Linked DNA regions of Homo sapiens: region 2 is linked to region 1. Evidence: fine-mapped QTL for protein levels in blood plasma. A gene starts in region 1. The other region holds a variant in brackets. All regions are shown on one strand. Distances are from middle to middle.

Region 1 (5,383 bases):
AAGTAATATTTCACTGAAGATCACAGAATATATATACACACATATCATTAAAGTAATATTGTAGCTTAGGGAAGAGTTCAGGGAAAGGGCTATATTCTGGAAATTGTAGAGATCTTTCTTAAAGGATCTCTAAGCTGTTATGTACTTGTCTTAGTGAGCTTGGGCCACTATAACAGAATACCATAGACCGGTGGTATGAAAGAGAGACATTTATTTCTCACCGTTCTAATAGCTGGAAGTCTCAGATCAGAGTGCCAGCATGGCAGAAGTGTGGGTCCCTAGGGACTGTCACTCATCATTTCCCCATTGTGGGGAGCCTCCCTTGGCTCCATGGCAATCCTGGATGGGCAGCTGCTCTGTGTCGCTCTTCTTTGCTCTCTGTAGGTTATGTGGCTTCTGTGATGAATCCCAAAGTGTCCTCCTTCAGGTCATGTAAATTTGTTCTTGGAGTCCTGTCAAATTAACCACTTTACCAGTGAGGGCTTTCTACTAGCCTTGCAGATGACTGCCTTCTGGAGAACTCATCTCTCTTTTTTTTTCCTCTCTCTCTCTTTTTTTAAATTTTTTTTTAAATTTTTTTATTATACTTTAAGTTCTAGGGTACATGTGCACAACGTGCAGGTTTGTTACATATGTATACATGTGACATGTTGGTGTGCTGCACCCATTAACTCCTCATTCTCCCAGTGCTATCTCTCCTCCCTCCCCCCACCCCACAACAGGCCCCGGTGTGTGATGTTCCCCTTCCTGTGTCCAAGTGTTCTCACTGTTCAATTCCCACCTATGAGTGAGAACATGTGGTGTTTGGTTTTCTGTCCTTGTGATAGTTTGCTGAGAATGATGGTTTCCAGCTTCATCCATGTCCCTACAAAGGACATGAACTCATCATTTTTTATGGCTGCATAATTTTCACATAGCTTCGTTTCTACAATCACAACATTCCTGAGGTAAACAGGCAAGGTGTAATCATTCTTTTTTTACAGAGGGAGAACAAGGAACTTAGGGAAATCAAAATGGGGACACTAACAGGATTTCTGTGGAAATTTAAGTAAATGAGAATTTGTAGTAAATTTTTTATCCTAAAACAAATAACTCACTTTGGCCGAAAAATGGGATGTTACCCAAGGTCCCCTACTGGGCCGGCGGAGAAAAGGACCTGCCTCCTACAGGGGCACAAACAAGGCAGACTAGGACCCAGCAGTCGGCCAAGGCCCAAGGGTCTCCAGTAAGGAAAATGTAAAATGTGAGTGTGTGAGACTGGCCTAAGATATAGGAAGAGCAGTAAAGAGAAGAAAACTGACGAGCAGAGGGGGAAAAGAATTATTAAACATGGTCAAGGAGCAAGGAGCACGACAAAGCCTCAGGATTTCTTCAAGGGATACTGCTGTGCCAGGTCTCAAGGGCAGAAGGATACAAGCACAAGACACCAGGGCCACCAAGCTGATGGGGTTACTGAGCCTCTGGACAGCACCTTCTGATAGGAAGCAAGGAAGCACACTACAAAGGCTGCAATCCTGGAGGCTGAGACAGTCAAGAGGGAGTGGAAGGGCCTCTGCTGCTCTGGGAAGGTATCTTATAGGGCAAATAAGCTCTTACTGTGTGCCTAAGAGAAAGGAAGAGGGAAGCGAGGCAGGTGTCATGGCCTTAAGAACTTTCTAGAGGTTTCTATTTATTGACATTTGACCTAGACCTCTTCATGAGCAAGGCGCAGCCTTGGGCTACAGGTAGGAAAGTCAGCATCCTACTCTCTCCTCAATTCCATCTGTTAATCCACCAACCCAAATCCCTCCCACCCCCACCTGAAGTCCAAATAAGGTAAAATGATAAAATGATGTGCTGTTCTCTCAACAGTTGGCTGAGTCTGAATTGGAGGGTAGGAAGCATTTGAAGCTCTGCCCATTTAGTTCCAGAACAAAAAATAAGCAGAGGCAGGAGGTGGAGAGCAAAGACGCTGGCAGCCCTGCGTCTGGTCTTTATAGCTGTGTCTTTGGATTTGTAGGCCACTCCTCAACTTTTCAGCTCCCGCACGATTCCTTAGGGCAAGCGACCAGTGGTTGACACCGCATATACACCTGGCTTAAAGTTATTGACTCGCTGCCAGTTGGAGACCCAGCTGTCCTCTGGACTCATCATCGCAATGATTCCATCAAAGGAGGAGCTGGTGCAGCCATATAGCATCTCTCAGTTACCCTTCATCTGTAGATATGCATCTCAATAGTCACAACCATCATATTCAAACTGGTCTATAGTACCTTGACCAGTGAACACAGCAAACAGGCCCACAGATGCCACAGGTCCTTCAGCACCGTCTCCAGGGCCATCTTCTCCAATGAGAAGAGCAACAGCAAGGAAGATGGCCACAGCCTGAGCACCCGCAGGAAGTAAACAGCTCGTTAGCCGGGTCTCTTCTTATAATTCCATCATGAGGACCCCATTCTCATGACCTCATATTAAACCTAATTACCTCCCAAACTTTTGACCTCCAAATGCCATTACGTTGGAGGGTAGTGCTTCCACCAATGAATTTTGAGGAGATACAGACATTCACTCCCTAACAGTGCTATAAATGAAGTCAGGGACCCTGATGGTGTCTTTATCACAGAATCTTACATTTTCTTTGTCTTTGCCTTAACACAACTCTTTTTGCTCACCTAGAAAGTTCTTGGGATTTAATTAACTGCTCTATCATCTCTTCCTCAACTCGAAAACAAAGGTTGCTGTGTCTTCACATGCCATGTACACACAAGGTATACTTTAAAAGTTTTTGTTCATTGTTCACATTGTCTTTTGCTCTCTTAGACTCAACTTTTTATTCAGTCCAGAGAACTTTTTAGTATAGAACTCACCCCAAGAATATAACTGCCTTTGAAAATATAATATTCACAAAAAGAATTTAAAAAGAGGGGACATTTACTAAATTTTTATTGGGCATAACAATTATTTCTTTTAGGGCGTTGCTAAATTTTTTGTCTAAATGAAAAAAAAAACAAATTGAGAAATTCCACATTTCACACTGATCTAGTGATCTCAACATACTTGTGGGTTTCTACTAACTGTTGTTTGGTATTGCTTTCTCAATTTCCTTTTTTTTTTTTTTTCGCCTCATCTCCCGGAATGTATCAAAGGAAACCCCTGTCTTTGAAAAAGACTTCTTTTGAGCTAACTTTCTTATACTGGTACCTTTCTAATCTCACTACAATATGTAACATTGGTGTTCGATCTCAAGTATTTCTGAATATATTCCCCTATCCACAGAAATATACTCTGGGGGAAAAAAAATAGAACAAATTCTTGCCGTCCTGACCATTGAACAAGAGACTAATTAGACAATGGGGCTAGAAAAACCTCAAAGTAAACGTGAGTACTTTCTCTCCTTTCCATTTCAAAGAAGCAGATGGAATTATACTAATTTAAAACATATGAATTGATGGTAGTTTTAAAGATTGTTGATGATGACGGGGAGAAGGAGGTGGAAGGAAATAAAAATGACGTTGGTGAAGAGGAAGGACATAGAGTCAAATAAGTTGGATAACAGAAACTTCTTTATAAAATGTATATTGGACCAAGAGGGGAGATAAAATATATAAAAGAGAAATAAGATGAAAAGAAAGAGAGTAATATGAGAAGATTCTTTTAAAGAAAAAAGAGAAAAGGAAGATGTAGAAAAAGCATTTAGGCTTATGCTGTATCAGAGGCTCTAACTGTCCCATTTTATGTTTGACTTAAGTGACACCAGTGGATTTGTATTGTGATAATATTAAATAATATTTTTGATAGATATATAGAACAAGTGTGGAAATGTTTAAATTAAAATTAAAGTTTTACTTTATCTCATCACCCTACCATGGCAAACTGTAATCACAGTGTGATCCTATTGAATTACCTTTTTAGGTAACAATATTTCTTAGAGATTTTTTGCATCAATATATACTGATTACATGCTTATTTAATTACTATACAGAATATCATTGTGTGAAGGGACCATAATTTAGAATTTCCACTATTGATAATATACATGTAAATATTAGATTACAGTATGTGTTTTCTATTTTGAGAAGTACTGCAATGAATATCTTTTAACATAAACAAGCTCAATTATTTCTATAGAATAGACACCTGTAATTGAAATTATTGTGGCAAATGAAATGCATTTAAAAATGGATAAATGCCACTAAATTGATCCTTCTAAAAGGCATTCCTAATTTTCCAGTCCAGGCAGCAGCATTTATTTTCTCACTAAGAGTGCTTATTTCCCCTCAGCCTTGCCAACACTGCATGTACTTAATTTACTTAAAAAATCTGATGTGTGAAAAGTTATACCACAATCTTTTCGTTTACAGTTCCCTGATTGGGCATATTTTTGTTTGATTAGTGGCTATTTATAACTTCAGCAAATTAAAATTTCAGCAAATTTCCTGCTCAGAGTTTTGCTCAGTTTTCTAGTTGATTTTGAAATACTTTATCCAGTGCGGATATTAATATTATGAGAAGACTTTCCTTTCATACGTTCCTTGACTCTAACATTGCTTGTGTTATATAGAAGTTTTAATTTTTATGTACTCAAATTATCTATTCTAATGGCTCTTGGGTTTTGTATCTTACTTATAAAATTCTTTTCATTTCAAAATTACCAAGAAATTTTACATTTTTCTTTCTTATTTATTTATTCATCAATAAGCTCTAAAATTGATTTATTTGGAGAAAATATTTATGCTCTTCTCTAGATCTGAAATATTTGGTTTGCTGTCACTTTTAGATTGCTCCTTGGTAGAATTAGCTTTCCTAGCTTGTAGCTGAGAGGAGGTTAATCTCTATTTTTCTTTTGGTCCTAGTGGAAGGAGGCATGCATCCCCAGCTGATACCTTCGGTTATTGCTGTAGTTTTCATCTTACTTCTCAGTGTCTGTTTTATTGCAAGTTGTTTGGGTAAGTTATTAGCCAAAGTAGAACTCTTCTTGAATTATTATTTCCAAACAACTTTTCTGAAGTTGCTCTAAGCCTTTTGGTATCTTGATTTTTCCTAGCATAACCTATCTATAATATCTTCAGGGTCTTGCACTGAATATTCAGAGCTACATTCTTGACCTTCTGTCTTTCAATGGTGGTACCTTGTGATAGAGATTGATTGATGGAATTTAGACCATTTTCTGTACATGTAAAAGTTGGTTACTATAGCAAATTTCCCCCCATTTTGGACTGGGATCACAAAGGGATACATCTTATGAGAAAAGAGTAAGCAGAAGAAAAATAACTTTCAGATAGACTGGCTTTGAAAAGAACAAGGTTGGAAGAATTGTTCTCTCTCTCTCTTTCCCTCTCTTTCTTTCTTTTTTCCTTTCTTTCAACCTCTTTATTGATGTACGATTGACATATGAAAACCTGTA
Region 2 (5,340 bases), 27 kb after region 1:
TGAGCAGTTCTTTAAACTTAACGCCCAGGAAATGGTGTCAGTAGAAAAGAAGTAGCAGCTGGATTGAAAATATTCCCAGTTCAATGGACAACAATTCTTGACTGAACCTAGGATGAGAGATGTTTCAGTGAGTGTCCCAGGTGAACCGAATAAGAAAACCCAAAGCTTCATCTGGCCCCATGGAGTCCTCATTTAAGTCAGAAGCCTTGGAATCACTTGTTCATACCCTACATCTTAGTATCTAAGACTTTAGATAATTCCAATGTCAAGAAACATAAACAGAATGTTTTTGGTCTTTTGAACGTAATTCTCATTCTCTGGATGTCAGTGCCAGGAAATGCAACTATATATGCAAACTATCTTAGTTATGCTATTGATATAGAACCTTATTATCTGTTCTTAGACTACTAATGTCAGAGAAATTTATGCATTTTATTTGGGTGACCCCCAAAGAGCCATCTCTTATGTTACCTAAACAATGTATCCTCAATCAAATCTCCATACTGTAGTATATAGATGGGTTAGATGTGGGCGGCAAGCCACCCAGGCGCTGAGGCAAGAGACAGAGGACACGAGCTGTTCCAGTATAATAAAATATAAAACAAGAATAGTTATACCAGATATAGATCTTAGATATGATTATATATGAATATCATTAATCATTAGTTTGTAGCAATTACTTTTTATTCCAATATTATAATAATCCTCGCTCTATAATCATAGCCAAGGAAAAACCAGGCCGTACAGAGCTACGAGCTGAGGGGACATAGTGAGGTGTGACCAGAAGACAAGAGTGCGAGCCTTCCGTTATGCCCGGACAGGGCCACCAGAGGGCTCCTTGGTCTAGCGGTGACGCCAGCGTCTGGGAAGACGCCCGTGGCCAGGCAGACAGACTGTGGTCTAGCGGTAGCGTTAAGTGTCAAGGGAAAACACCCGCTACTTAGCAGACAGGAAAAGGGAGTCTTCCTTTCCCTGGGGGAGTTTAGAGAAGACTCTGCTCCTCCACCTCTTGTGGAGGGCCTGACATTAGTCAGGCTTGCCCGCAGTTATCCGGAGGCCTAACCGTCTCCCTGTGATGCTGTGCTTCAGTGGTCACACTCCTAGTCTGCCTTCATGTTCCATCCTGTACACCTGGCTCTGCCTTCTAGATAGCAGTAGTAAATTAGCGAAAGTACTAATAGTCCCTGATATGCAGAAATAATAGCGTAAGCTGTCTTTCTCTCTGTCTCCTCTCCCTCTCTGCCTCGGCTGCCAGGCAGGGAAGGTCCCCCTGTCCAGTGGACACGTGACCCACATGACCTTACCTATCATTGGAGATGACTCACACTCTCTACCCTGCCCCTTTCACCTTGTATCCAATAAATAACAGCGCAGCCAGACATTCGGAGCCACTACCGGTCTCCGCGCATTGGTGGTAGTGGTCCCTTGGGCCCAGCTGCCTTTTCTTTTATCTCTTTGTCTTGTGTCTTTATTTCTACATGCTCTCGTCTCTGGACACAGGGAGAGACCCACCAACCCTGTGGGGCTGGTCCCTACAGTTAGATTTCTTAGAATTACAGAACTTTTGCCTTTGAGGTCTATTATAAATAATTCTTCTAACTTCTCTCAATTTAATGGTGAGAAAATTATAGCTCAGAGAAGGAAGTCACTTTTTTAGTGTCATGTAGCATTTTGCTAGGACTTGCAACAGGATGACATAGAAGAGCATAGAGAGTATATTTGTGAGATATTTATAAATTCTCTACTCCATACGTTTTTTCTCCATCTCATTTTGGAAGTAGGTGAATGAAAAAAAAGGTACACTCCTGGGAATAATACCTTCCACTTCCAGATTTACTGTTCAGACATACCCCTCAAATTTATTCTAAAAGTTTACTATAATGTCCCCAAGACTTTCTGCCCCAATGCTAATTGCATCACCAAATTTCTAGGATTTTACATTTTGCTTTTGAAAAATAAGACCTAATCCAGCTATATCTCACCTGTCCCAAAGTCAATCTAGAAGCCAGAAAATGTTGCTTTGTAAATTTTGATGTTCACCTTTGGGACTATTATACCTGATCCATAATTGTAGCAGGAGAGCTCTGTGAAATTCTCAGGTAGCTGAAACTTTTTCTCATCACAGGTTTGAAAGATGCGAAATGTCACTGTAAAAGAAAGGGCATAATGTTTGTTAGTCTTATTTCGGTTAAAAATGTCAGTTCCCTCAGTTTTGTATTTATAACAAAAGTGCCAATAATTATCATGTTTTTTCTTACAATCTGCTTTTTCTTACGACCCAGAGAAAATAGATATGTTTGCACTACCTCTTATGCCAAGTCCAACTCTCTCTACCCTTCCTTCCAAAAGTAATTAGTCATATCTCTGGTGCCGACCAGTAGTTCAAGCTCTAAGGCAGACTCTCCTAGAGAAGGTTACACTAATGATAGAGGCTGAAAGAGGAGGATTCAGGACTGCCAAGGAAGTGAAAAATGTCTATCATGAAAAGTAAGTCACAGGTGATTAAAATTCAGAAACAGTTCCCTGCTTGTTGAGGTTTCTGGTTTGAGAAATAACCTAGAGATTAATAGGGAAAAAAAAAAGGGTGAAATAGAAAGACCCTTTGAGGGCAAAGAGAGTCTACAGGCAGCATGGAAGAGTTTTCTCCTAATATGCACCAGGAAGAATTAAATTGAATTTGACCTTCAGAACCCACCAACACATCTGGTGATGAAACAGGCACTGAGAAATAGGATGGGGATCCCAGCAACAGTCCATAAGAACATTTGGGAAGAGAAGCATCCTCTCTCTGTAGAAAGAAAGACACAAACATGATCAATCTTCCCTAAGCAAGGTACAAAAGAGATAGAAGAGATTCTTATTCATCCTTACTTATTTCCTTCTACTTCCATTGTTTGTACTGAGTAATTCCCAAATTTCAGCATGCTTCAGAATCACTTGGAGGGTTTATGGAAACACAGATTGCTGACCCTTACCCCCAGAGTTAGCAACTCAGTAGAGTTTGTATGGAACCAACAAGTTCCCAGGGGCTACTGCTGCTGCTGGTCTGAGGACCACACGTTTAGCACCCCTGGAGTAAGACTCTGACTCATGAACTCAGATATACAATTTTTCCTTTCTAAGTCTCTCAGTTAAATTTTTTTCAGTATTTTCTAAGGCCCCCCTTCTTTCTTTTTCTTTCTTTTCCCTTTTCTCGTCTTTGCTTTTCTTGTCCTTCTCCTGATCTTTTTTTTTTTTCTGTGTCTCACTTTTCAAGCGCTTTGTAAATTAGGTAAAATGTTAACAGTCATCTAATAGTTCCTCTCTTCCTCCCATTAAACATTTTACAGACAAAGAGAGTTCCAGAGAAGTGAAGTGACTTGCCAAAAGGGACACAATGTATTGCAGAAAGGGTGGAAACTGATAGCTCTCCCTTAGCTAGAGGCCAGCAGGCTTTCTGGTATAAGAAATAGTCTTTAAATCTCTCTCTCTCTCTTCCTCTGTCCCCCCACTTTTTTTTTTAACTTCAGTGAATACTTTTCTATTGTCCTGTCTTTCACCATATTTATCACTTGTTCCAAAAAGAGATCTATGGAAGGAAAGGAAGAGTTGCAGATTTTACCTGTGCATTGTGTTTCAGATGATTTAGATGAATTCATTTTTTCTCTCTCTTTGGTTTTTTGTTTCTCTCTCTCTCTTTTTCTCTCCCTCCCTCTCTTTCTTTCTCCTCAGGAGTGTTTTGTTGGTAAGATTCAGGGAGAATGAATCTTGAAAGATAAACACTTT[G/T]TCTTTTAGGAAGTTCAGCTCCGATAGATGTAGAATATTAACTTGTTCTGTGGCTACGCATTAAGTCAGGATTTCCTTTCTTGCATAAGGAGGACAAGGAAGTTTATTGGACAGCATGTCAGTTCTCTTCACTCCATGTAACAACAAAATGAGGAAATTATGAAATGGTAAGCATCAACACAAATAGGCTAGCCATGGGGAAACAGGAGAGTTTTTTTTTTAAATGTTGTTTCGTTTCGTTGGACCAAATGTCTCTAGTTTCTTCAAGGCATAACTCATCCCCCAGTTTTTCCTTGACAATATGGAGCTCACCTCTGCACTCTGAATTTCACTTTGGATCTGTACCATCCACACATTTGGTAACTGAAAAGAAGACTTAGACAACATAGCACAAAGCTGGGCATATAGTGTATGTATTTAGGACATGGCAACCTGAATTTTTTCATCTTTTTTTTTTTTTTTTTTTTTGAGACAGAGTCTCGCTCTGTCGTCCAGGCTGGAGTGCAGTGGCATGATCTCCGCTCACTGCAAGCTCCGCCTCCCGGGTTCAAGCCATTCTCCTGCCTCAGCCTCCCGAGTAGCTGGGACTACAGGCGCTCGCCACCACGCCTGGCTAATTTTTTGTATTTTTAGCAGAGACGGGGTTTCACTGTGGTCGTCAGGATGGTTTCAATTTCCTGACCTCGTGATCCGCCCGCCTCAGCCTCCCAAAGTCCTGAGATTACAGGCGTGAGCCACCGCGCCCGTCCTCTTTTTCATCTTTTATGGTTTTTCTTTCTTCTTCATTTGCAGCTCTTGAATATTCTAATGTTGTGGATTTATGTCCCTCTTATCTTATGCTGACTACTAGGCTGCTACTACTAGGCTGACTACTAGAGTCCCCCTCAGCAGGACAGCCTCATGTGATTAGACCACTTTGAAACTCAGCTTAGTTTTTCACAACATAACGCAGCTTCTGAAGTCTCAGAGACCCAGCAGGCAGTTTAATTCTCCTGTTCTCAATTATTTGGGGATTTTAGTTCTATGTTACAGCCTACAGTAGGAGAAATGTATTTGAAGGTCAGAAAAAGCAATTTCAATTAGATATTAGAATTTAATGGTTCTCTGGGCCGGGAGCAGTGGCTCATGCCTGTAATTCCAACACTTTGGGAGGCCAAGGTGGGTGGATCATTTGAGGTCAGGAGTTTGAGACCAGCCTGGCCAACATGGTGAAACCCCACCTCTACTAAAAATACAAAAATTAGCCAAGTGTGGTGGCACGCATCTGTAATTCCAGATACTTGAGAGGCTGAGACAGGAGAATAGCTTGATCCTGGGAGGCAGAGGTTGCAGTGAGCCAAAATTGCACCACTGCACTCCAGCCTGGGCGATAGAGTGAGACTCTGTCTCAAAAAAAAAAAAAAAAAAGAATTAATGCTTCTCTGGAAGAATAGTTAGATATGTGCCTTCTCCTTACTTAAAGATACTTAAGAATAAGATCACACTGGTCTCAGTTTATTTAAGTTCACGAGTCAGGAGGCATAAGTATGATGTACATGACTTGGTAAATCCCCACATCCAGTGACTCACGAATTT

Which allele goes with the higher level. Positions count from the first base shown, and alleles are read on the strand shown. Strength reflects both the effect of a copy and how common the allele is.
For the plasma level of the protein whose gene starts at base 3,100 in region 1, allele G in region 2 goes with a lower level than allele T (weak association).

The links. PIP is the posterior inclusion probability: the model's chance that the variant is causal. Protein levels are from antibody-based Olink assays in UK Biobank. Linkage for the fine-mapping came from a reference panel and not from the study's own genotypes, which makes the PIPs less certain.
Region 2: its variant is fine-mapped to the plasma level of the CLEC4D protein (UK Biobank, PIP above 0.99).

The regions. Positions count from the first base shown.
Region 1 is chr12:8,510,404-8,515,786 of GRCh38, forward strand. It overlaps CLEC4D (C-type lectin domain family 4 member D), which reads left to right and starts at 3,100. Exons shown (of 6, transcript NM_080387.5): 1 at 3,100-3,357; 2 at 4,833-4,925. The coding sequence starts at 3,330. It also overlaps the pseudogene SUPT4H1P2.
Region 2 is chr12:8,537,160-8,542,499 of GRCh38, forward strand. It overlaps CLEC4E (C-type lectin domain family 4 member E), which reads right to left and starts at 3,746. Exons shown (of 6, transcript NM_014358.4): 1 at 3,602-3,746; 2 at 2,696-2,788; 3 at 2,058-2,147; 4 at 1-107. The coding sequence starts at 3,638. The variant G/T (reference allele first, on the strand shown) is at 3,766.